Regions from separate parts of the Homo sapiens genome. Here all the other regions are linked to region 1. Evidence: fine-mapped expression QTL. A gene starts in region 1. Each other region holds a variant in brackets. All regions are shown on one strand. Distances are between the middles of the regions.

Evidence for each region. PIP is the estimated chance that this variant, and not a neighbour inherited with it, causes the effect.
Region 2: its variant is the best candidate, but not a certain one, in a credible set for the expression of TIPRL in prefrontal cortex (ROSMAP, PIP 0.55).
Region 3: its variant is the best candidate, but not a certain one, in a credible set for the expression of TIPRL in rectum (CEDAR, PIP 0.52).
Region 4: its variant is the best candidate, but not a certain one, in a credible set for the expression of TIPRL in whole blood (INTERVAL, PIP 0.59).

Annotation. Positions count from the first base shown.
Region 1 is chr1:168,175,565-168,181,463 of GRCh38, reverse strand. It overlaps TIPRL (TOR signaling pathway regulator), which reads right to left and starts at 2,502. Exons shown (of 7, transcript NM_152902.5): 1 at 2,283-2,502. The coding sequence starts at 2,386. RefSeq lists enhancers at 2,271-2,390, 2,378-2,879.
Region 2 is chr1:168,866,170-168,872,068 of GRCh38, reverse strand. It overlaps LOC105371606 (a long non-coding RNA gene), which reads right to left. Exons shown (of 2, transcript XR_922261.3): 2 at 1,870-3,092. Among named protein-coding and RNA genes, the nearest start is that of LINC00626, 82 kb to the right of the region's middle. The variant T/A (reference allele first, on the strand shown) is at 3,350.
Region 3 is chr1:167,377,028-167,382,926 of GRCh38, reverse strand. All of the region lies in intron 7 of POU2F1 (POU class 2 homeobox 1), which reads right to left. Among named protein-coding and RNA genes, the nearest start is that of CD247, 140 kb to the left of the region's middle. The variant C/T (reference allele first, on the strand shown) is at 3,301.
Region 4 is chr1:168,205,633-168,211,531 of GRCh38, reverse strand. It overlaps the pseudogene RPL34P1. Among named protein-coding and RNA genes, the nearest start is that of SFT2D2, 17 kb to the left of the region's middle. RefSeq lists an enhancer at 2,765-3,357. The variant G/A (reference allele first, on the strand shown) is at 2,976.

The DNA of each region.
Region 1 (5,899 bases):
GAGGGCAGGTGGATCATCTGAGGTCAGGAGCTCAAGACCAGCCTGACCAACATGGTGAAACCCCATCTCTACTAAAAATACAAAATTAGCTGGGCGTGGTGATGCATGCCTGTAATCCCAGCTACTTGGGAGGCTGGGCAGGAGAATCGCTTGAACCCAGGAGGTGGAGGTTACAGTGAGCCGAGATGGCGCCATTGCACTCCAGCCTGGGCAACAAGTGAAACTCCATCTCAAAATAAAAATAGAAAGAAAGAATAAGAAAAAAAGAAAAGAAAAGAAAATTAAAAATAAATAAATAAATAAAAATACAAAAATTAGCCAGGCGTGGTGGCACGCGCCTGTAGTCTCAGCTACCAGGGAGTCTAAGGCAGGAGAATCACTTGAACCTGGAAGGCGGAGGCTGCAGTGAGCTGAGACTGTGCCACTGCACTCCAGCCTGGGCGACAGAGTGAGTCTCTGTCTCAAAAAAACAAAATAAAAAATAAATAAAAGTTATACAAGGCTGGGCGCAGTGGCTCATGCCTGTAATCCCGGCACTTTGGGGGGCCAAGGCGGACAGATCACCTGAGGTCAGGAGTTCGAGACCAGCCTGAGCAAAATGCAGAAACTCCGTCTCTACTAAAAATACAAAAAAAAAAAAAAAGTTATAAAAAAAAAAGAAAAGAAAGATATAGAGAGGAAAAACTCAAAAAAGTAATTCAATTTCTGGTGGGATGAAGGGAAATTTTTTTCCTTTCTTTTCTGTATTTTCCTAATTTTTTTCAGTGAGTCTACTAGAATATTACCACTTATTTTCTTGAATTAGGAAGCAAACATCGTTTCATTACTTTCCTCTCTTCCCTGGTCACTCCCTCTGCTCAAATCTTAAAATGCAAGTACTCACTTAGGGTTCTATTTTATGACCTTTTCCTCTGGATGACTTCTAGATACCTTAATTCATTCCCAAAGCTCCAGGTACCAAATATAAGCAGATAATTCCCAAACTTAAACCCACAGACGTTATCTTTTTTGAGCTCCAAGATAAATATATCTAAATGCCTACTACACATCTTCACTTTATGACCTATACCCACCTCACATTTCAATAAACTAAACTCATCCTCTAACCAACACCCTGCCCCCATCTGCTTCTCCTCCTCCTGTGCTTCTCATCTTGTTCAAAGGCATACGATACATGCAAAAATCCAAGCCAGAGATCTTGTCATCAGCATAGACTCTTCCTTTTTTATTTCTCCTCCCATCAGCTGGCCATCCCAGGGACTTAATCTTCTAAAACCTATCTTTTCTCTTACTAACTGGTCTCCTTCCCATCCCTGCGGACCTGCAATCCAGCCTCAACATGGCCTCCAGAGAAATCTTTCAGAGCGTACATCTGATAATGCAGCTCCTTTGGATAAAATTACACCCAGTGGTTGTCAGATAAAATTGAAAACTCCTTAGCCAGGCATAAAAATTCCCTCAGTATCTTGATTCCCCTGGGGCCTACCTCTCATCTCTCACAACACCCCCTATGGTACCTCACGCTCCAATCACACGGACACAGCTCTTTAAACACATCACAGCTTTCACTCTCCCTGAGCCCCCAGCTTTACATGCGTCCCCTGATTCCCCTAAATTTTGTCAAGATTCAGCCCAGGCATCAAAAACGCATCACAACTCACTCTGCCTGACCTGATGGCATGTACCTATCCACCGCCCCCCGCAACGGTTTTATAAAGATTCAGTTCAGGCATCCCAATTTCCCAGATGGTTCGAGCCCCTAAAAGACCTCACATCACTCCGTGTATACATCTTCATTACATTTATTCACGCTGTAATATAATTGTCTGTCTCTCTCACGAGACTGTGAATTGAGGCGCACGTTGTCTTTTACATTTCCTATCTCAAGCGCCGGGCACAGCACCTGACGTGACAGAAACCAAACTTATAAATCATCCCCGTCATTAACCCCTAAGAAAACAGGCAACAGCCACCCAGAAAGAAAGGTGGTGCAGGCTGAGGCAGGAGGAGACGTTTGGTGAGGGGAAAGTCCACCAGAACAGTCACACTCTACTCAAACCCAGGCGGATTGACAGTTGACGAAAGCAGCGCCTGGCGATCCCCAACCAAAGGGCCCGGAAGTGTGACTGGATTATTTATCGAAGTTGTCAATCAAAGGTCCGGTCCGGAGGGACCGAACCTCCGCCTCAGGGAAAAGGGGAGGGGCTGCACAGAGTTCGCCCTGCCTCCCGCCCTGGGCCAGCAACCGGCCAGCGCCCAGACCCCGTGCCCCGAAGCCTCACTTCTCCACATCCGCCGACTTCATGATGTGGGTCTTGGACGCCGTCAGCTTCCAGGGCCCGAAGCAGAAATCCCGGTGGCTGCTCTGGAAGCCGTGGATCATCATGGCTGAGGCAGGACCCGCAGAGGCCACAAGGAATAAGCTGAAGCAGCGGCGGCGGCGAACACCGGTTCCTCCGCCTCCCTCCGGCCCAGCCTCCTAGGCTTCCGAGCCGTTACCATGCCCGGCCCCGCCCCCTGCCGGCCGACCCGGACGCGGGCTCTGCTTCCCGTCTTCTTCTCCGCCTCTTTGCTTTTTGCTTCCGGGACTAGTTGCTCTTGTTGCGTGACCCACGTCTTACGTTCCGGCGTTCCGGAAAAAAGGAAAAAGGAGAAAGTCAGAGGGGCGGCACTTGGGTTGCAGAAGGTGTGGTTAGGAACGCACCGCCCTCTTGAACTCGTTGGGTGACGTCATCTCGAAGGATTTTAGGGACTGCCAGGGAAGGGGATGACGGTTCCAACTTGATCCTTACAGACCTCAAAGCAGTGTGATTACCTCATGTGTTAGTGAATCGTGTTACAGAGGAAATTTTTCTGTTTTGAGGTCAAAAAAAGAAGTAATCCCACAGAGTTTAGGAAATCCAGCACCAACAAGATTTAGAAGTGGCCATCTAGCCACTCTTGACTATGACCAACTCCTATCAAAAATTGCATCCTCGTAGATATGCGAAGACTTTCCATGGTCTAGTTGCTATGTAGGCACCCAGTATAGTGAAAACAACACAGCTGACTTAGTGCTAAATCTCCATTTGCAACACTATTGTGTGAATCCTTGGGCAAAGCGCTTCTCTAACGATTTTAGGCTTCAGTTGCCTCAAAATGAGATGATTTTGTTAATGGAAAAAAAACAAATTCTGTAAAAGGTTTTAAAGAGATTTATTCTGAACCAATATGAGTGACCATGGCCCAGGGAATAGTCCCAAGAGGTCCTAACAAAGAGCATCTGAAGCGGTGGCATTACTCTTTGTTTTATACATTTTAGGGAGTTGGGAATTGCAGGTAAAATAAGTCAATATATGGAAGATATACATTGGTTCAGGCTAAGGAAGTGGGATGTCTTGAAGGAGAGGCTTACAGATCATAGGTGGATTCAAAGATTTTCTGATCGGCAATCTGTTGAAAGATTTAAGCTTTAGTCAGGCGAGGTGGCTCCTGCCTATAATCCCAGCATCTTGGGAGGCCTAGGTGAGAGGATTGCTTGAGTCCAGGAATTTGAGACCAGCGTGGGCACCAGAGTAAGCCCTCATCTCTACAAACCGTGTTAATTAGCTGTGTATGATGGTATCTGCCTGTAGTCCCAGGCCACTTGAGAGGCTGTGGTGGGAGGATCTCTTGAGCCTCAGAGGCTGCATTGAGCCATGATCATGCCACAGCACTCATGCCTGGGTGAGCGAGACCCTGTCTCAAAAACAAATAAAAACACAGGCCAGGTGCAGTGGCTCAAGACTGTAATCCCAGCACTTTGGGAGGCCAAGGTGGGTGGACCACCTGAGGTCGGGAGTTCAAGACCAGCCTGGCCAATATTGTGAAAACCTGTGTCTACTAAAAATACAAAACTTAGCCAAGCACGGTGGTGGATGCCTGTAACCCCAGCTACTAGGGAGGCTGAGGTGGGAGAATCACTTGAACCTGAGAGGCAGAGGTTGCAGTGAGCCGAGATCGTGCCACTGCACTCCAGCCTGGGTGACAGAGTAAGACCTTGTCTCAAAAACAAACAAACAAACAAACAAAAAACAGTGTTAAGCTTTGTCTAAAGACTTGAAGTCAGTAGAAAGGAATGCTTAAGAAAAGGGAGTCTGCTATCTGTCATGTGATTCTACACCAGTCAGGTTGGAAAGTAAGGCACATTATACCATTGCACATAAAAAACCATTTAACGACATTTTATGGTTTGTAGGGCATGACTTAATCCTTGCCTTGCATGGCCATAGTTTTTTTGTTTTGTTTTGTTTTGTTTTGTTTTGAGACAGAGTCTTGCTCTGTCGCCCAGGCTGGAGTGCAGAGGCCCCATCTCGGTTCACTGCAACTTCCACCTCCTAGGTTCAAGCGATTCTCCTGCCTCAGCCTCCCAAGTAGCTGGGATTTCAGGCATGCAACACCATGCCCGGCTAATGTTTGTATTTTTAGTAGAGACGGGGTTTCATCATGTTGGTCAGGCTGGTCTTGAACTCCTGACCTCATGATCCACCTGCCTCGGCCTCCCAAAGTGCTGGGATTACAGGCGTGAGCCACCGCGCCTGGCTCGCAGGTCTTGTTTATTTGTATTTATTTTTTTTTTTGAGACGGAGTCTCGCTCTGTCACCCAGGCTGGAGTGTAGTGACGTGATCTCAGCTCACTGCAACCTCCACCTCCCCAGTTCAAGCGATTCTTCTGCCTCAGCCTCCCAAGTAGCTGGGACTACAGGCACGCGCCATCTCGGCCAGCTAATTTTTGTATTTTTAGTAGAGATGGGGTTTCACCATATTGGCCAAGCTGGTCTCGAGCTCCTGACCTCGTGATCCGCCTGCCTCAGCCTCCCAAAGTGCTGGGATTACAGGCGTGAGCCACTGCGCCCAGCCTAGGTCTTGTTTATAATATGGTATCTTATTGCCACAGAGTGTTTTGTCAGTCTTATGATCTCTAGTTTAACCTTAATGTTGGTCAGTTGTGCCTAAACTTTAAAAGGGAGAAGGTATAGAGGTGTGTCTAACCTCTCTTCCCATCTTGGCCTGGAATTCAGTTTTTAAGGTTTTTCTGAGGTTCCTTTGGCCAAGATTAGGTTTTGTTTTCTATCTAAAATTTCTTTTTATTTAAAAATTTTTTTATTTTTAATTTTTATGGTACATAATAGACATATTTATGGGGTATATGAGATATTTTGATAGAGGCATGCAATGTGTAACAATCACATCAGGGCAAATGGGATATCCATCACCTTAGACATTTATTATATTTTTGTGTTGCAAACATTCCAGTTATAATCTTTTAGTAATTTTTTTTTTTTGAGATGGAGTCTCGCTCTGTTACCCAGGCTGGAGTGCAATGGTGCGATCTCAGCTCACTGCAACCTCTGCCTCCTGGGTTCAAGCGATTCTCCTGCCTCAGCCTCCTGAGTAGCTGGGATTACAGGCACGCACCACCATGGCCGGCTAACTTTTGTATTTTTAGTAGAGACAGGGTTTCACCATGTTGGTCAGGCTGGTATCGAACTCCTGACCTTGTGATCCACCCGCCTCGGCCTCCCAGAGTGCTGGGATTACATGTGTACAATAAGTTATTGTTGCCTGTAGTCACCCTATTGTGCTATCAAATACTAGATTTTATTCATTCTGTCTAACTATATTTTTGTACCCATTAACCATTTCTGCCCCTCTCCACTACCCTTCCTAGCCTCTGGTAACCATCATTTTACTCTCTATCTCCATGAGTTCAATTGTTTTAATTTTTAGCTCCCATAAATGAGAGAGAACATGAAAAGTTTGTTTTTCTGTGCCTGGCTTATTTCACTTAACATAGTGTCCTCCAGTTCCATCCATGTTGTTGCAAATGACAGGATCTCATTCTTTTTTGTGGCCAAATAGTCCTTCATTGCATGTATGT
Region 2 (5,899 bases), 690 kb before region 1:
CACTACAACAGGACTGATTTGCATTTCTTTAGTGACCAATGTTTAACCTCTTTTTATGTGCTTGTTGGCTTTTTTTGCATACTTTCTTTGGGAAAATTCCTATTCAAATACTTTGTCTATACTGTGTTTCACTAGACAGCTTTATTGAGGCAAAATTCACATGCTATACCACTCATCCATTTAAAGTATATAATAATTCAATGATATTAATATATTGACAGGATTGTGTGACAACCCCCAGAATCTAATTAATTTTAGAATATCTTCATCACTTCAAAAAGCAATGAACTATCCACCAGCAGTCACTCCTAATCCCTCCCCATCCCTCAAGCCCTTGGCAACCACTAATCCACTTTCCATCTCTATAGCTTTGCCTATTCTCAATGTCTTATATAAATGGAATAATCTAATATGTGGTCTTTTGTGACTTGTTTCTTTCACTTAGTATAATGTTTTCAAGGTTCATTCATGTTGTACTATGATCAATTCTTCATTCCTTTTTATTGTCAAACAACAGGCCGTTGGAGGGATATACTACATTTTGTTTATCAGGTCATCAATGGATTGAAATGTGGGTTATTTATACCTTTTGGATATTGTGAATAGTGCTGCTATGACTATGATTGCATATGTATTTGTTTGAGTACCTGTTTTCAATTCTTTTGAGTATGTACCTAGGAGTGGGATTGCCAGGTCATAAGGTAACTCCATGTTCAACTTTTGAGGAACCACCAATCTGTCTTCCAAAGTGGCTCCAACATTTTACATTCCCAGTGGCAATGCATGAGAGTTTCAATTTCTCCACATCCTCTACGATTCTTGTTATTAGCCACTCTATAGTGGCTTTGTGAAGTGGTATCTTGTGGTTTTAGTTAGCATTTCCTTAATGAATGATCATTGTAAGCATCTTCTCTTGAGCTTATTGGTTATTCATATGCCTTCCTTAGAGAAATGTCTACTCTGATTCTTTGCCCATTTAAATATTGGATTAATTATCCTTTATTATTCAATTGTAGGAGTTCTCTATATATTCTGGATACATGTCTCTTGTCACATGTGTTATATGATTTCCAAATATTTTCTCCTATTCTCTGTGCGATCATTTGTCTTAATAGTATTACTTGTATTATAAAACTTTTAAACTTTGATGAAGTCAAATTTATCTATTTTCTTTTGTTGCTTACGCTTTTAGTGTCATTTCTAAGAAGGCTTTGCCTAACTCAAGGGCACAAAGATTTACCCCTATGTTTCCTTGTAAGAGTTTTATAGTTTTGACTCTCACATTTAGGTATATAATCCATTTTGAGTTAATTTTTTGTGTGTGTAATGTAAGGAAGGGAACTGGCATCATTATTTTGCATGAGTTTGATGTGTTTGGATTCTCTAATTTAAGGAAAAACTAATGATAACTTTAGTACAGGTTAGACGGAGGTGCAGAGAAGAGAAGAAAATCTCTTCTCTGAAGAGGACAGTCAAGATGATAGGATTGAGCTTTGTACTACCAGGGCCTTAGTTCAGGAATGTGATGTGACTGAAGCCAGCTCAATGAGATGCAATCTCAAGACTTGCTGGAACTATTAGAATAAAACTCTTTTTTTTTTTTGTAGGATTATTATCTGTTCTGATTACTTAAGTCTCAAGCTACCAGTCTCTTTAAGTAGACAGCTTACTGGAAAATGGGTCAATAAAACGAAAAGCAAAGCCAATAGGTGGGGTGAGACACTGAGTTTGTTAATATTGTTTGAACTTTTGAAACAATACTTGAAAATCTACTCTTAAATTTTCAGTTTTAGATTTTTTTCACTTAATTACCAAGTAAGTGCAGAATGGCACACACCTGTGTCTTGCTCCAAATACTCATCAACAATATGCACTAGAGAAAGAATACATTTATTATAGTTTCCTGATCATTCTTTGAAGTTTGACATGGTTGTTTCTTCCACTAGGAATGTCTTTTCTCTAATTTACTTGATTAACACGATCTTTCCTTCAAAAAGCGTGAAAAGGCCTCAACTCCTCTCCTAGAAGCCTTTGCTAATATAGCAAGGCAGGGTTGAAGGCCCTCCCCTCAACCCAGCCTGAGCCCCAGTAGTGTCTGTCTCATTTCATTTTAGTTTTCTGGCCCCTCAACTTTTGAGAAAGTAATGGACAGTGAACATATTTATTCATCTGTGTATTCCATGTGCCTAGACCAGGGCCTAGTACATAATGGGCAATCAGTAACTTTTGTTGAATGAATGGTAAATGCAATAGAGCCCCCATACGGTTAAATTTTATTAAGATCTCACAGTCCTCTAAATATATAACTATTTTCTCTGTGTCTAGCTTGTTCCCTCTCCCCTCGTGTTGAATTTTAAAACAGTCCTACGAGAAGACACCTAAGACTAAGAGAAGCACAACCTGATATAATAGTTTTGGTCAGTGTGGAATGCAGCTGCCTTCTTGCTTTCTGAACAAAGTGATGCCAACCAAGTATAACAGCCCTATATTCTTTCTGCTTATCAGTAGGTTTTGAGATATATATATATATGTTGGCTTTTTTGAGTCAGAAGGCCAATGACAAATAATCCCCTTTGCCTTCAGACACATTTAGCATTCTTGAGCTTACCTTGCCACTCAACAACACCCCCCATGTTTCTGGAGTTGCTGTATGGTTTAAGTCAGAGCAGTGAGCAGCTGGTGTTACTTTAATTCCTTGTGAAAACTTCTTCTCTGTTCCAACCAATATCCACGCAACCTCTGTTCTTTTAATATTTCCAATGTTAATTCAGTTTGCTTATTCTACACATGATAGATGGCTGACCTGTAAAGATTTTGAGGCAAAGGAAAGAGCACTGGAGCCAGGCAAGTAGCCTCAGTTCCTCCATTAGCTTATTATATTTGATGTCTTCGGTCCTCAATTTCTTCTCCTGAATCATGATAAGCCTGGATGGAAGAGCCCCTAGGGCCCATTGCAGTTCTCAGATTCACAGGACACTCGATGTTCCTATGGTTCTCATTGAAGTTATTTGTGATGCTGGATAGAGGCTGAGGGAATTTGGCCTTCTAACTTTTGGTAACATGTTCCCAGGAGGTATGCACTGTTAATTGTGCTGTTAATTGAAGAGAAAACATTGGCATTAAAAAGAGAGTTCCTTTTTACTTAGGAAAATCTGTCTTTACTTTCCCCCTTTTTGTTTTTATCTCTTTAAATCCCATGTTGTGACCATTTTATGGAACCGCCCAAATAATCAAAGTGGGCCCTGTAAACTGCCTCATTTCTTAAAAGAAGGCAATACACTGCCTAGTCTCTAAGACTTTACATAGCTGGGTTGTACAGTCAGAATAGGCCAAATACTATACTAAATAA[T/A]CTTCAAATTTCAGTGTTTTAACACAATGAAGATGCATTCTCACTGATATCATAATCCAGTGAGAGGTGGCAGGGGCGAAGTGTGGGGATGGATGGGGACGTGAAGGTGTCAGAGAAGCTGTTTCCACCATGTTCCAGGACTTCAAAGTCTTTCACTGGGTCTTTTGGTTCCACCAGCAGATGCAGGAAGACAGGAGAAGGGTGAATGGTTTTGTGGCCACACGAGGGAAGTTTAACTGTACACCGAAGACAAAGAGGAAATGAGTTTAGTAATCTCTGCTGGGTCACCTAGGTATGGCAGAAACATGCACAGGGAGATGTTTATACAATAAGGTAATGATACAGAGAGACATTATTATACACATAGACTGAAAAGACTCATGAGACTGGAGGGCCACAAAGAAGGGCCAGGTGGTGATTCTGAGTTCAGAGAGGGGACTTAATGCAACCCCTCTTGTTTTATAGCCAAGGAAATTATACCCAGGTAAGGAAATTATGACCCAGGTAAGTAAAGTGGCTGCTCAAGGTCACCACAAATTAACTGCTTATCTGAAATGAGAACTCGTTGGTCAGCATACTTCCTGGCATTCATGTAGTAGAATCACAGGTGCCAGCATTCTTTGGAGAAAAGCCTACTTGGCTCTGGTTTAAGACCAAAGTGAAATATCAACCTTAATTTTTTTTTTTAAATGGAACTGGTCTAAAAACCATGGAAGATTTTAAAATTCTGAATAACTGTTGAAAGTCACCAAATGTGTAAGAGCACAGGGTAGGCATTTAATTAGAGAGAAGAGACAGAGACACACATAGAGAGAGAGAGCCACTAAGAAAGAGTCAAAGATCTGTTAAAGAAATATCCTTTTGATAGTAAACCTGACCTATTGGTTTTGCTGGCTCTAGGGGTCTATAAATTTTACTTCCTGTTTTTTTAGTTCTAAGGAGAAGAAGTCCCTACACAAATATTGAGAAAGATAAAGGCTGTCTTTGGGCCCTTTGCCCCTGTGATGGTATTCCTCTTCTAACATTCAAGTTGTACCAATGTCTCCCATCCCTCTCACCAGATAGCAATGCCTTCATTCCATTCCCTTGTCAATCTGATCACTCCATTTTCCATCCCCAAAGAGACTATTATAGTTATGTGTAAAGTGCTGATTACATACATTCATTGTCTCCTTTAGAACTCACATAAACTTCAGGAGCGAAGTTTTAGTATACCAATTTTATAGATGAGAAAAAGACCAATAGATAGAGCTACCAATTACTGAATACCTGCTATGTTCCAGATGCTTTATATACTCTATCACAATTTATACGGCAATCTTGCAAAATATTATTATATCACTTCCCTTTAAAATATGAGGAATCAATATCAGAAGGGTTAAATAATTTTGCCGAGATCACCAAGCTGGCAAGATAGAGACAGATTTTAAACTTGGGTTTATTTGATTTTAAAACCTATGTTTTCCATGATGCCAAATAATAACAATGATGATTTTATTATTATTTGTAATCATTTTTACTGTTATTAAGTTTTTATTTTATAGTCTTTCCAGAGAAAATTCACATTCTCTGATGGGATTCTTAGAGGTGCAATGCTTTAAACATTATGAATAAATGTGGTAGTTCAATTTATCAGTTAGGGTACTTTTAGCTGGAAGTTAAAAACAAACAAACAAAGATAAATGGTATAAAAAACAAGTAAACAAGGCTATTTATTTGTCCCTTAAGGAGAAATGCAGAGCTAGAGGAATTCTAAAGCTGGGTAATTCAGTGTCTCAGTGATGCTACCAAGAACCCAGTATCCATCCTTTCTGTTCTGTCATCTACAGTAATTTGCTTTATCCTCTTAGGCTGGTTCCCATGATGGTACCAGATGGCTCTCTCATTGCAGGTATCTTAAGCAGGTGACAACATCCAGAAACAGAAAATAAAACTGCTAGACTTGTGTTCATTTTTAGGAGTGAGAAAACCTTCCTAGAGCCTCACCGACAGACTTTCCTTGACATCACTTCAGCCAAAATTAGATCACATGCCCATGCCTAAACAAATCACTTTCCAAGGGGAATGGAGTTGCCATGTTTGACTAAACCACTTAAGGATTTAATGTCCTTTGAAATAATTGACTTCTCAATATTTTAGCAAGCTTCAGTTTCTGTTAGGAAGAAGGTTCAAGGCAAATTCTTGTGGGTAAGAAGCAATAGTGATGATCACATTCAGGCACCAAGACTCGGTGGGATAAGGATGGAGGTAGAAACTTTCAGGTTCACACAGAGGTCTTGCCTTCTCATGAGCCCAGACCCATTATGAGTCATGTTATAGAAGTAAATACTGTAAGTGTTTGGGGAAGAATTTTCACATCGTCCCAAAGTGTTATTTTGAAATTACAAAGATTCTCAGTTGACTGACTAGAAAAAATATGAAAAAAAAAGCCAACTTCTGACTCAATAAGGGCCACTTATGTTACTATGCTGTGAACTAATTGGTCTCAAATAACTTTAGAGCCATTTAGTTCAATTCCCAGATCTTTTGTTATAATGCTTGTCTTCCTTC
Region 3 (5,899 bases), 800 kb after region 1:
AACACTTAAGCCTGCCAGAGATTAGCCATAGAATTTATCACTTATTTATAAGTAACTAAGCACTGCCTAAATTTAAGCTATCAAAAGATACTAATATTTATTTCATAATGTAGGTCACAAATAAGATAAATATATTAAATAGATTTGAATTTTTCTAAAGAACCCTGACTTTTGCTGATCTGGGACAAGTGAAATATATATTGAAGCAAATATGATTAAATAAAATTCAGCATATATTACTACAAACATTTCTTAAAAGGCAGGTTTATGGAAGTTTAAATGACCATCCTCCTTCCCCAAGTGTCTCCCTATAGTTCAATCTCCATATAATAGTTAGGGTGATCTTTATAATCTTATTATTTCCCAATTAAAATGCTGTCATGGCCTTATATTAGAATTAGAACAAAATCTATGCAGCCCTAGGTATCTGGCCCTGTCTAGCTATCGTATCTCAACTTCTACCACTTCCTTTGACTCACTGAACTCCAGCTACTTTGGCTTTTCTTTTCCTGGATCAGGTCAAGCTGTTCCCATCTCAGGTGTTTCACATTCCTTTGCCTACAAGACTCTTGTCTTCAGATTCTAGGTGTGGTAACCTCTCCCTCATCCTTCCTCACCAGTTCCCAATTCAAATATTGCTTCTCCAGAGAGACTTTTCCAGACCATGGGCCCATTCTTCTTTAGGTTAACCATTACCAGATTACTATGATCCGCTACCTGACTAGTACTTATTGGTATCTAAACCATTTGTTTACATGTTTACTATTTGACGTCTCTTAATGAGGGCAGGGCCTGCATCTTGTTCAAAATACATCCCTAACTATCAGAGCACTATATGACACAGCAGGCACTCAACTAATTTTTGAGTGAATTAATTAAAATATCAAACTTTACTGGTTTGAAAAATACTGAAGGGTAGTCTAGAGGAACAAAACTATGTTAACTATTAAAACTAATTAAATAAAATTGTTTTGAAAAGACTAAAGAATATTCAAAAACAATAATAAAAAAAGAGAGGGCCAGGCGCGGTGGCTCATGTGTGTAATCCCAGCACTTTGGGAGGCCGAGGCAGGCAGATCACTTGAGGTCAGGAGTTCAAGACCAGCCTGGCCAACATGGTGAAACCCCATCTCTACTAAAAATACAAAAATTAACCGGGTGTGGTGGCACACACCTATAATCCCAGCTACTCGGGAGGCGAGGCAAGAGAATTGCTTGAACCCAGGAGGCAGAGGTTGTGTTAAGACAAGACTGCGCCACTGTACTCCAGCCTGGGTGAAAAAACAAGACTCTGTCTCAAAAAAAAAAAAAAAAAAAAAAAAAGAGAAGAGAGCACAAAGGTCAGAAATGAAGTTCCATTAAACATAGGCTATTTCAACATAGGAGTTTCTTTAAAGTTTAACAATGAAAGTTAGTTTAATCTGTAAGAGACAAAAGCAGATAAGTAAACAAATTCAAACCTTAGGTTTTACCCCCAAACAAGGTCAGCTGAAAAGGCTGAAAGGGCCCATAGAGGTTTAGAACTTTTTAAAAAACCAATGCTTGGCCAGGCGCCATGGCTCACGCCTGTAATCCCAGCACTTTGGGAGGCCGAGGCATGTGGATCATGAGGTCAGGAAATCGAGACCATCCTGGCTAACACGGTGAAACCCAGTCTCTACTAAAAATACAAAAAAATTAGCCAGGCGTGGTGGCATGCGCCTGTAGTCCCAGCTACTCAGGAGGCTGAGGCAGAAGAATCCTTCTAACCTGGGAGACGGAGGTTGCAGTGAGCCAAGATCACACCACTGCACTCCAGCCTGGGCGACAGAGCAAGACTCCATCTCAAAAACAACAACAAAAAAAAAACGCTTGCCACTTTCCCTTACCTAAACAATGAAAACCCAAACAAAACTCAAATGAACAACAGTTTTCTAACCAAAAACATTTCTTTGATTATTTTTATAATTAGTGCTGAGAGTAGATAGGGCAGAATAAGATAACCAATAAATTATGACTCAAGTCCAGTAATCTATCAGTAAGAATTTTCCCATGAAAAATAATTCTGAGGAAAAGGCTTAAATTTCCCTTGCTAGAAATTAAATTCTAGACAGTTACAGTTATATAATCATAGCAATATTACCAAAAATATGAACTACATCTCAAAAGTTTTAGGTTAATCAATGAAAAACAAGGGAAAACAGAATTCCAGAAATCAATATTGAAGGCTAATCTCATGCTGGAAACATTATTAAAATTCCAAAAGATAAAATCTTTGTCCTCCATCATGAAGTTAAGAGATTAGCTCTTTGGATTTTCAGCTTCTCTGATGCTATTAATTACAATGAATTCAATTCTTAGAAATGTTTATAGACGTATTTCCACTACGCTGATCCTCTACATTGTTGAATAATCTTAGAAAATGGAATCTAGGTCACATACGACTAACGAATGATTGCAACTCAGCAGCAGTGGTACAAGGTGATTCTAGGGAAACTATATAAAGGAACAACCTTTTCATTCTCTGAGTTATCTATCGTTTGTTGACTGAGGATGATACTGGTATCATGATAATGTCATAATGGTAACAGCAGCAAAGATTTAGAAAGGTTACTATGTAGGAGGCAGCTTTCTAAAAGGTGCCTTACATGTGTTTACTCGTTGACTCCCTACAACTCTTAGAGGTGAACACTGAAAGTATCCTAATATCACAGTTGAGGAAACAGGGGCCCATAAAGTTAACTTTCCCCAGGACACACAGGTAAGTGGCAGAGCCAAGATTCACAAAGAGACAGTTTGGCTTTAGAGTCTATGCTCTTTGCTACTACATTATAATGACCTTCCTGATGTTAGGGTAGTAAAACTTTTTTTGTAATTCACCCATGTAAGTGAAGGGGAAGATAAAAAGGGAAATATGGGAAACTCAGAAAGGTTAGGTGAGTTGTCCAGGGTCACTGGCTCTAAGGCCAATCAGTATTACATTATCTGTGCTATTTTCCCAATCTTATAAAAGTCTGGAAGTTGGGGGAGTGTTTAAAAACATACACATACTTTTGCAAGTACCAAAAAATCAGAATGAACAGTAATTCATTATTCCTACTATCTTGATTTGAGACAAATAAAATTGAAATAAAATGAGGTCCCAGATATGAAAAGGGAAAGACAACGCCCTTGGCTTTGCTGAAAGTGAATGAAGGCAATCTCATTCTATCTTAAGGCTTTGGCAATTAACAAATCTAATAAACACACTTTGCATTGACCTTCCTAAGTCTTTCTGATCTAGGTCACTTTCTCCTTCCCTCTTGGCATTTTCTTCCATTG[C/T]GATTACCACTCTCCACTAGTTTTTGACTTCTGAAAATGCAGTATCTTTTGAATCTACTTAATCCTTTACACCTAAAAGGTTGGTTTCACCAAGGTTCTTCTAACACTACATATATATTTTCTCTGACCCTATCAACCCTCGTAGTTTCCTAAAAACCCAGGCATTATACCTAGATACTTCTTTCCTATCATTAATCAAATATAACTGGCCACCAGGTCCTGTCCATCTACCTACTTATTTACCAATTTTCCCTACCCAAGTTTCAACATGAACTTTATTAAATAAAAACTTGGAAATGCCACTTTTCTGATTAAATCTGTGGTTTAGTAGAGTTGACAGAAGACTTTCTTATTGGAAGATATTGGGCCATTCACATTAGACTCCTCTAAGTGAGTCCAGATACAGTGGCTCATGCCTATAATCCCAGCACTTTGGGAGGCTGATGCAAGAGGATCGCTTGAACCCAGGAGTTCAAGACCAGCCTGCGCAACCACAGCAAGACATGTCTCTATAAAAAACTTTTTTTTTTTTCTCAATTAGCCAGGTGAGGTAGTACACACTGTACTCCCAGCTGCTTTGAAGGCTAAGGTGGGAGGACTGCTTGATCCCAAGAGGCTGGGACTGCAGTGAGCCATGATTGTGCCACTGCACTCCAGCCTGGGTGACAGAGCAAGACTCTGTCTCAAAAAAAAAAAAAAAGTCAAAATTAGCTGGGTGTGGTGGCGCATGCCTGTAATCCCAGCTCCTTGGGAGGCTGAGTCAGGATAATCGCTTGAACTCGCGAGGCAGAGGTTGCAGTGAGCCAAGATCATGCCATTTAACTCCATCTCAAAAACAAACAAACAAATAGAGCAAGAACGAGGAGCCTGTGAATCCATTTCCTATTTATTCCATCTCAAAAAAACACAAAAAAACAAAAAGGCCTGATGCAGTGGCTAACGCCTGTAATCCCAGCACTCTGGGAGGCCGAGGTGGGCGGATCACCCGAGATCAGGAGTTTGAGACCAGCCTGGCCAACATAGTGAAACCTCATCTCTACTAAAAACCAAAAATTAGCCCAGCATAGTGGCGGGCGCCTATAATCCCAGCTACTCAGGAGGCTGAGACAGGAGAATCGCTTGAACACAGGAGGTAGAGGTTGCAGTGAGCTGAAATTGTGCTGCTGCACTCCAGCCTGGGCAACAAGAGTGAAACTATGTCTCAAAAAAAAAAAAAAAAAAAAATTAGCTGGGCATGGTGGCGCATGCCTGTAATCCCAGCTACTTGGGAGGCCGAGGCAGGAGAATTGCTTGAACCTGGGAGGCGGAGGTTGCGGTGGGCCGAGATCGTGCCATTGCACTCCAGCCTGGGCAACAAGAGTGAAACTCCATCTCTTAAAATCCCAAAAAACAAAGAACAAAAAAACTCAAAAAATAACAGATGCTGGCGAGGTTGTGGAGAAAAGGGAACACTTATACACTGCTGGTGGGAATGTAAATTAGTTAAGCCATTGCGGAAAGCAGTTTGGCGATTTCTCAAAGAACTTAGAATTGCCATTTGATACAGCAATCCCATTATTGGGTATATACCCAAAAGAATATAAATTTTTCTGCCATAAAGACACATACCCATGCGTATGTTAATTGCAGCACTATTCACAATAGCAAAGACATGGAATCAACCTAAATATCCATCAACACTAGACTGGATTAAAAAAAATGTGGTGCATATACACAACGGAATACTATACAGCCATAAAACTTTCAGTACATATGTACACAAAGAAGGGAACAACAGCCACCAGGGCCTACTTGAGGGTAGAGGGTGGGAGGAGGATGAGAATCGAAAAAACTACCTATCAGGTATTATGCCTATTACCTGGGTGATGAAATTATCTGTACATCAAATCCCTATGACATGTAGTTTATCTACATAACAAACCTGAGTGTAACCCTGAACCTAATAGTTTAAAAATAAGAAAAAAAGTAATTGGGAGGTTGGGGTTAGGGCTCAGGAAACTTTTCTAATTCCTCAAGTGATTTTTTAATTTTTTTATTTTTTAGACGGAGTCTCACTCTGTCACCCAGGCTGGAGTGCAGTGGTTCAATCTTGGCTCACTGCAAGCTCTGCCTTCCCAGTTCACACCATTCTCCTGCCTCAGCCTCCTGAGTAGCTGGGACTACAGGCGCCTGCCACCACGCCTGGCTATTTTTTTTGTATTTTTAGTAGAGATGGGGTTTCACTGTGTTAGCTAGGATGGTCTCGATCTCCTGACCTCGTGATCTGCCTGCCTCGGCCTCACAAAGTGCTGGGATTACAGGCGTCAGCCACCACGCCTGGCCATTAATGACTCTTAAATAAATCAAATCTTAGGAAGCACTAAGCTATAGGATTTAAGGTCAAACTCCTGGAAACTTAATCTAAGGTTCTTTAATGATCTGGTCTCTGCTAATCTTTCTGGGTTCAAATTTCACTATTACCTGCATATGCAAACTTATTCTGCAGTTGTAAGGCACTACTTATAGTTCTCAAACACAGCTTATTGATTTTTCTTCCATGTTTCTAAGGTTTGCAAATGCTGTTCATTTTCCAAGACTGACATTCTCTCTTTTGTAAGCC
Region 4 (5,899 bases), 30 kb before region 1:
ATCCCTGTCATATATGAATCTGGTTCTGAGGATTGCTCTGTCTCTTAAAACTGTGGAGTTTTTGTTCTGTTTTGCCTTTTAGTCTGCCTTGTAGTTTTTTTTCTTGATACCTGAACGTGATGTACGTAAAAGGGGCTATAGTAAAAAGGCCTTTAGTAATGTGTGGGAAGATGTGTGGGAAGGAAAGGTATTTTATAGTCCTATGATTAGGTCTCAGTCTTTTTTTAAAGTCTTTTCATTTTTATTGCTCAAAAAAGTTTCTTTCTTTCCTTTTTTTTTTTGAGAAGGAGTCTCGCTCTGTCGTCCAGGCTGGAATGCAGGGCTCATTGCAACCTCTACCTCCCGTGTTCAAGCGATTCTCCTGCCTCAGCCTCCCAAGTAGCGGAGATTACAGGTGCATGCCACCATGCCCAGCTAATTTTTGTATTTTTAGTAGAGACAGGGTTTCACCATGTTGGTCAGGCTGGTCTCGAACTCCTGACCTCATGATCTGCCCGCCTCGGCCTCCCAAAGTGCTGGGATTACAGGTGTGAGCCACCACTCCCAGCAACAGTTTCATTTTTTATTTAGCTTTTTGACTCTGTGCTTGTGCCTTCAACACTTTCACAACAATTTTCTGCTCCTCGATAAGGAAAGCATGCTTGATCCTGTCATGAACACATTTAGCACAAATGGAACCACCATATTCCCTGCTGACATGTTTTTTTGTTTTGGACAATTTCATAAGAACTTTAGGTCTCACAGCACGAACCCCTCAAAGTCTGCCTGGGCACATGCCACATGCAGATTTTGGTGCTTTCCCAACCTTCTTGGTATAAAAGTAAACAATTCTATTACCTGGGGTTTGGGACAGCCTAGTTTTGTTAGAGGCTATATTGTAGGAAAGCCTACGATGGTATATCAAATGCTGGACCATTCTGAGTGCCTGTAAACAACATCAGCAAAAGAGGAAGAAGAAAGTCTTTGTGAGTTCAAAGGTCGAATAGGATTCAGTCTCAGTCTTTTAATGAGCCTGTGCCTCTGGACTGTGAACTTCACAAGTGCTTCTCCGTACCTCCCTCCCCACCATTGGGTGGAACAGGATAGCTAGAGCTGACTGGAGTTGGATATTTCTCTTCCCCCAATCAGTAAGACTCTGAAAAAACTTTACTAGATTAGGCTCTAGTAAAACAGTTTCTCTCAAGGGCAGGCCTTGTTAACAAGAGAAAGCTCTGGCATATTTGAAAATGGTTATTTGTCCCCTTCCCCTGATGAAATCCCAAAGGGATTTTTGGCCAGTCTTTACTGTGAGAACCTGATTGAGTGCCTGGAGGTAAAACTCAGAGAAGTGTGGCGGTTGCCCTATGACTGGGTCCCCCTGGAGTTTTTATTTATTTGTTTTATTTTATTTTTTGAGATGGAGTCTCACTCTGTTGCCCAGGCTGGAGTGCAATGGTGTGACCTTGGCTCACTGCAACCTCTGCCTCCTGGGTTCAAGTGATTCTCATGCCTTAGTCTCCCAAGTAGCTGAAATTACAGGCGCATGCTACCACACCTGGCTAATTTTTGTATTTTTAGTAAAGATGGGGTTTTGCCATGTTGGCCAGGCTGGTTTCGAACTCCTGAATTCAGGTGATCTGCCTGTCTTGGGCTCCAAAGTGCTGGGATTACAGACATGAGCCACCACATCTGGCCCCCTTGGAGTTTTTAATCTCAAACTTGTCCACACTGAGCCTCCAGCTATTTGTCAAGCACAATTTAGATTTTCCTACCCTGGCACTAGTGCCCACGGAGGTTTTTGCTTCTGAGTTCCTGCTCCATTAAGTTGTAATTCTCTGTATTTGCCTGTCTCTTCAATTTTGGGAGTAGCATTTTGCCCTGTAACGTCACTTTTCTGAGGGATCCAAGAAGAGTTGTGTCTTCACTTTGTCCAGCATTTTCCTTATTGTCAAGATGGAATGATGACTTCCAAGCTCCTTACATGGACCTTCGCTTCATTATTTTCTTGCTCATTTACTCCCTGACCAGAAGTTGGCTATAATTCTTATGTGTTTCTTTCTCTGTATATAATGTTTCTTTTTCCTCCAACTGTCTTTGAGAGATTAACTCTTATCTTTGGTTTCAGCAGTTTGACTTACAATGTGGAATTTCTGGAATTCTGGGACCTGTGAGTTACTGTTCTTCATTAACTTTGGAAAATTCTTGGCCATTATCTCTACTGATACATTTTTTTCTTTCTTTTTATTTTATTATTATTATTTTTTTTTGAGATGGAGTCTCACTCTATTGGCAGGCTGGAGTGCAGTGGTGCAATCTCGGCTCACTGCAACCTCTGCCTCCCGGATTCAAGCAATTCTCCTGCCTCAGGCTCCCGAGTAGCTGGGACTACAGGTGCGTGCCACCACGCCTGGCTAATTTTTGTATTTTTAGTAGAGACGGGGTTTCACCATGTTGGCCAGGATGGTCTTGATCTCTTGACCTCGTGATCCGCCCGCCTCGGCCTCCCAAAGTGCTGGGATTACAGGCGTGAGCCACCGCGCCCGGCCTCTACTGATATTTCTTATCCCGCAGTCCATTTCTGTTTTCTCTTGGACTTTAATTACATATGGGTGTATGTCTTTTTTTGTACTTTGGTTTATTGTGCTTCACAGATATTGCATTGATTATATCTGTATGGTGATCTGTGATGAGTGATCCTTGATGTTACTATTGTTAACTGTTGGGGGATATCAACAATTCTGCCTATATAAGACAATGAGCTTAATCGATAAATGTAGTGTGTGCTGTGACTGGTCCATTGACCTTCCATTGTCCCATCTCTCTCCCTCTCCTCAGGCCTTTCTGTTCCCTGAGACACAACAATATTGAAATTAGGCCAGTTAATAACCTACAATGGCTCTCCCTCTCCCTCTCCCTCTCCCTCTCCCCACGGTCTCCCTCTCCCTCTCTTTCCACGGTCTCCCTCTGATGCCGAGCCGAAGCTGGACTGTACTGCC[G/A]CCATCTCCGCTCACTGCAACCTCCCTGCCTGATTCTCCTGCCTCAGCCTGCCGAGTGCCTGCGATTGCAGGCGCGCGCCGCCACGCCTGACTGGTTTTCGTATTTTTTTGGTGGAGACGGGGTTTCGCTGTGTTGGCCGGGCTGGTCTCCAGCTCCTAACCACGAGTGATCTGCCAGCCTCGGCCTCCCGAGGTGCCGGGATTGCAGACGGAGTCTCGTTCACTCAGTGCTCAATGTTGCCCAGGCTGGAGTGCAGTGGCGTGATCTCGGCTCGCTACAACCTCCACCTCTCAGCCGCCTGCCTTGGCCTCCCAAAGTGCCGAGATTGCAGCCTCTGCCTGGCCGCCACCCCATCTGGGAAGTGAAGAGCATCTCTGCCTGGCCACCCATCGTCTGGGGTGTGAGGAGCCCCTCTGCCCGGCTGCCCAGTCTGGGAAGTGAGGAGCGCCTCTTCCTGGCCGCCATCTCGTCTAGGAAGTGAGGAGCGTCTCTGCCCAGCCGCCCATCGTCTGAGATGTGGGGAGCGCCTCTGCCCCGCCGCCCCGTCTGGGATGTGAGGAGCACCTCTGCCCGGCGACGACCCTGTCTGGGATGTGAGGAGCCCCTCCGCCGGGCAGCCGCCCCGTCTGAGAAGTGAGGAGCCCCTCCGCCCGGCAGCCGCCCCGTCTGAGAAGTGAGGAGCCCCTCCGCCCGGCAGCCGCCCCATCTGAGAAGTGAGGAGCCCCTCCGCCCGGCAGCCGCCCGTCTGGGAAGTGAGGAGCGTCCCCACCCAGCCAGCCGCCCCGTCCGGGAGGTGGGGGGCGCCTCTGCCCGGCTGCCCCTTCTGGGAAGTGAGGAGCCCCTCTGCCCGGCCGCCACCCCGTCTGGGAGGTGTACCCAACAGCTCATTGAGAACGGGCCATGATGACGATGGCAGTTTTGTCGAATAGAAAAGGGGGAAATGCGGGGAAAAGATAGAGAAATCAGATTGTTGCTGTGGCTGTGTAGAAAGAAGTAGACATAGGAGACTCCATTTTGTTCTGTACTAAGAAAAAATCTTCTGCCTTGGGATGCTGTTGATCTATGACCTTACCCCCAACCCAGTGCTCTCTGAAACATGTGCTGTGTCCACTCAGGGTTAAATGGATTAAGGGCGGTGCAAGATGTGCTTTGTTAAACAGATGCTTGAAGGCAGCATGCTCATTAAGAGTCATCACCACTCCCTAATCTCAACTACCCGGGGACACAAACACTGCGGAAGGCCGCAGGGTCCTCTGCCTAGGAAAACCAGAGACCTTTGTTCACTTGTTTATCTGCTGACCTTCCCTCCACTATTGTCCTATGACCCTGCCAAATCCCTCTCTGCGAGAAACACCCAAGAATGATCAATAAAAAAATAAATAAAATAAAATAAAATAAAATAAAATAATAAAAAAGAAAATATGGTGTCCTGAAAATGCTATGTGTATGAGTGAGAATTGAGTTATTTTGAAGTGGTTTTTGAGTATTTCCTTATGAAAGTCAAATAAGGGAAATAATTCAGTAATAAAAAAATTTATTTCCATGCTTAAAAAAAAAAATAACCTACAATGACCTCTAAGTGTTCAAGTGAAAGGAAGAGTCCCATGTCTTTCACTTTAAATCAAAGGCTAGAAATGATTAAGCTTAGTAAGGAAGGCATGATAGGATGAAAGCCAGACATCTTGTACGAGTTAGCCAGGTTGTGAATGCAAAGGAAAAGCTCTTGAAGGAAATGAAAAGTGCTACTCCAGTGAATACATAAATGATAATAAAGCAAAACAGCCTTACTGCTGATACTGAGAAAGTTTCATTTACCATTCTCAAAATCCTAGAGCTGAGAATTATGATCAGTTGCTACCACCTGTGCTCTACAACAAAGCCTGGATAACAGCACATCTCTTTACAGCCTCGCTCACTAAATATTTTAAGCCCAGTATTGAGACCTACTGTTCAGAAAAAAAGATTCTTTTCAAAATATCACTGCTCATTGACAATGTAGCTGGTCAACCAAGAGCTGTGATAGAGATGTACAAGGAGATGAATGCTGTGTTTTCATGCCTGCTGACACAATATACAATCTGCAGCCCATGGATCAAAGAGTCATTTCAACTTTCAAGTCTTATTTCTTAAGAAATACATTTCATAAGGCTATAGCTGCCATAGATAGTGATTCCTCTCATGGAACCAGGCAAAGTCAATTGAAAACTTTCTGGAAAGGATTAACCATTCCAGATGCCAATTTGTGATTCATGGAAGGAGGTCAAAATGTCAACATTTTAACAGGAGTTTGGAAGAAGTTGATTCCAACCCTTGTGGATGACTTTGAGAGGTTCAGGACTTCAGTGGAGGAAGTCACTGCAGATGGGGTGGAAATAGCAAGAGAACTAGAATTAGAAGCAGAGCCTAAAGGTGTGACAGAATTATTGCAAATTCATGACAAAACTTTAACAGGATGAGGAGTTGCTTCTTATGGATGAACAAAGAAAGTGGTTTCTTGAGATGGAATCTACTGTTGAAGATACCGTAAGCATTGTTGAAATGGCAACAAAGGATTAGAATATTACATATACTTAGTTACTTAGCTGATAAAGTAGTGGCAGGATCTAAGAGGGTTGAATGTCTTTTTTTTTTTTTTTTTTGAGACGGAGTTTCACTCCTGTTGCCCAGACTGGAGTGCAATGGTGTGATCTCTGCTCACCGCAACCTCCGCCTCCCAGGTTCACATGATTCTCCTGCCTCAGTCTCCCGAGTAGCGGGGATTACAGGCATGTGCCACCATACCCAGCTAATTTTGTATTTTTAGTAGAGACAGGGTTTCTCCATGTTGGTCAGGCTGGTCTTGAACTCCCAACCTCAGGTGATCCGCCCACCTCGGCCTCCCAAAATGCTGGGATTGCAGGTGTGAGCCACCACACCTGGCCGT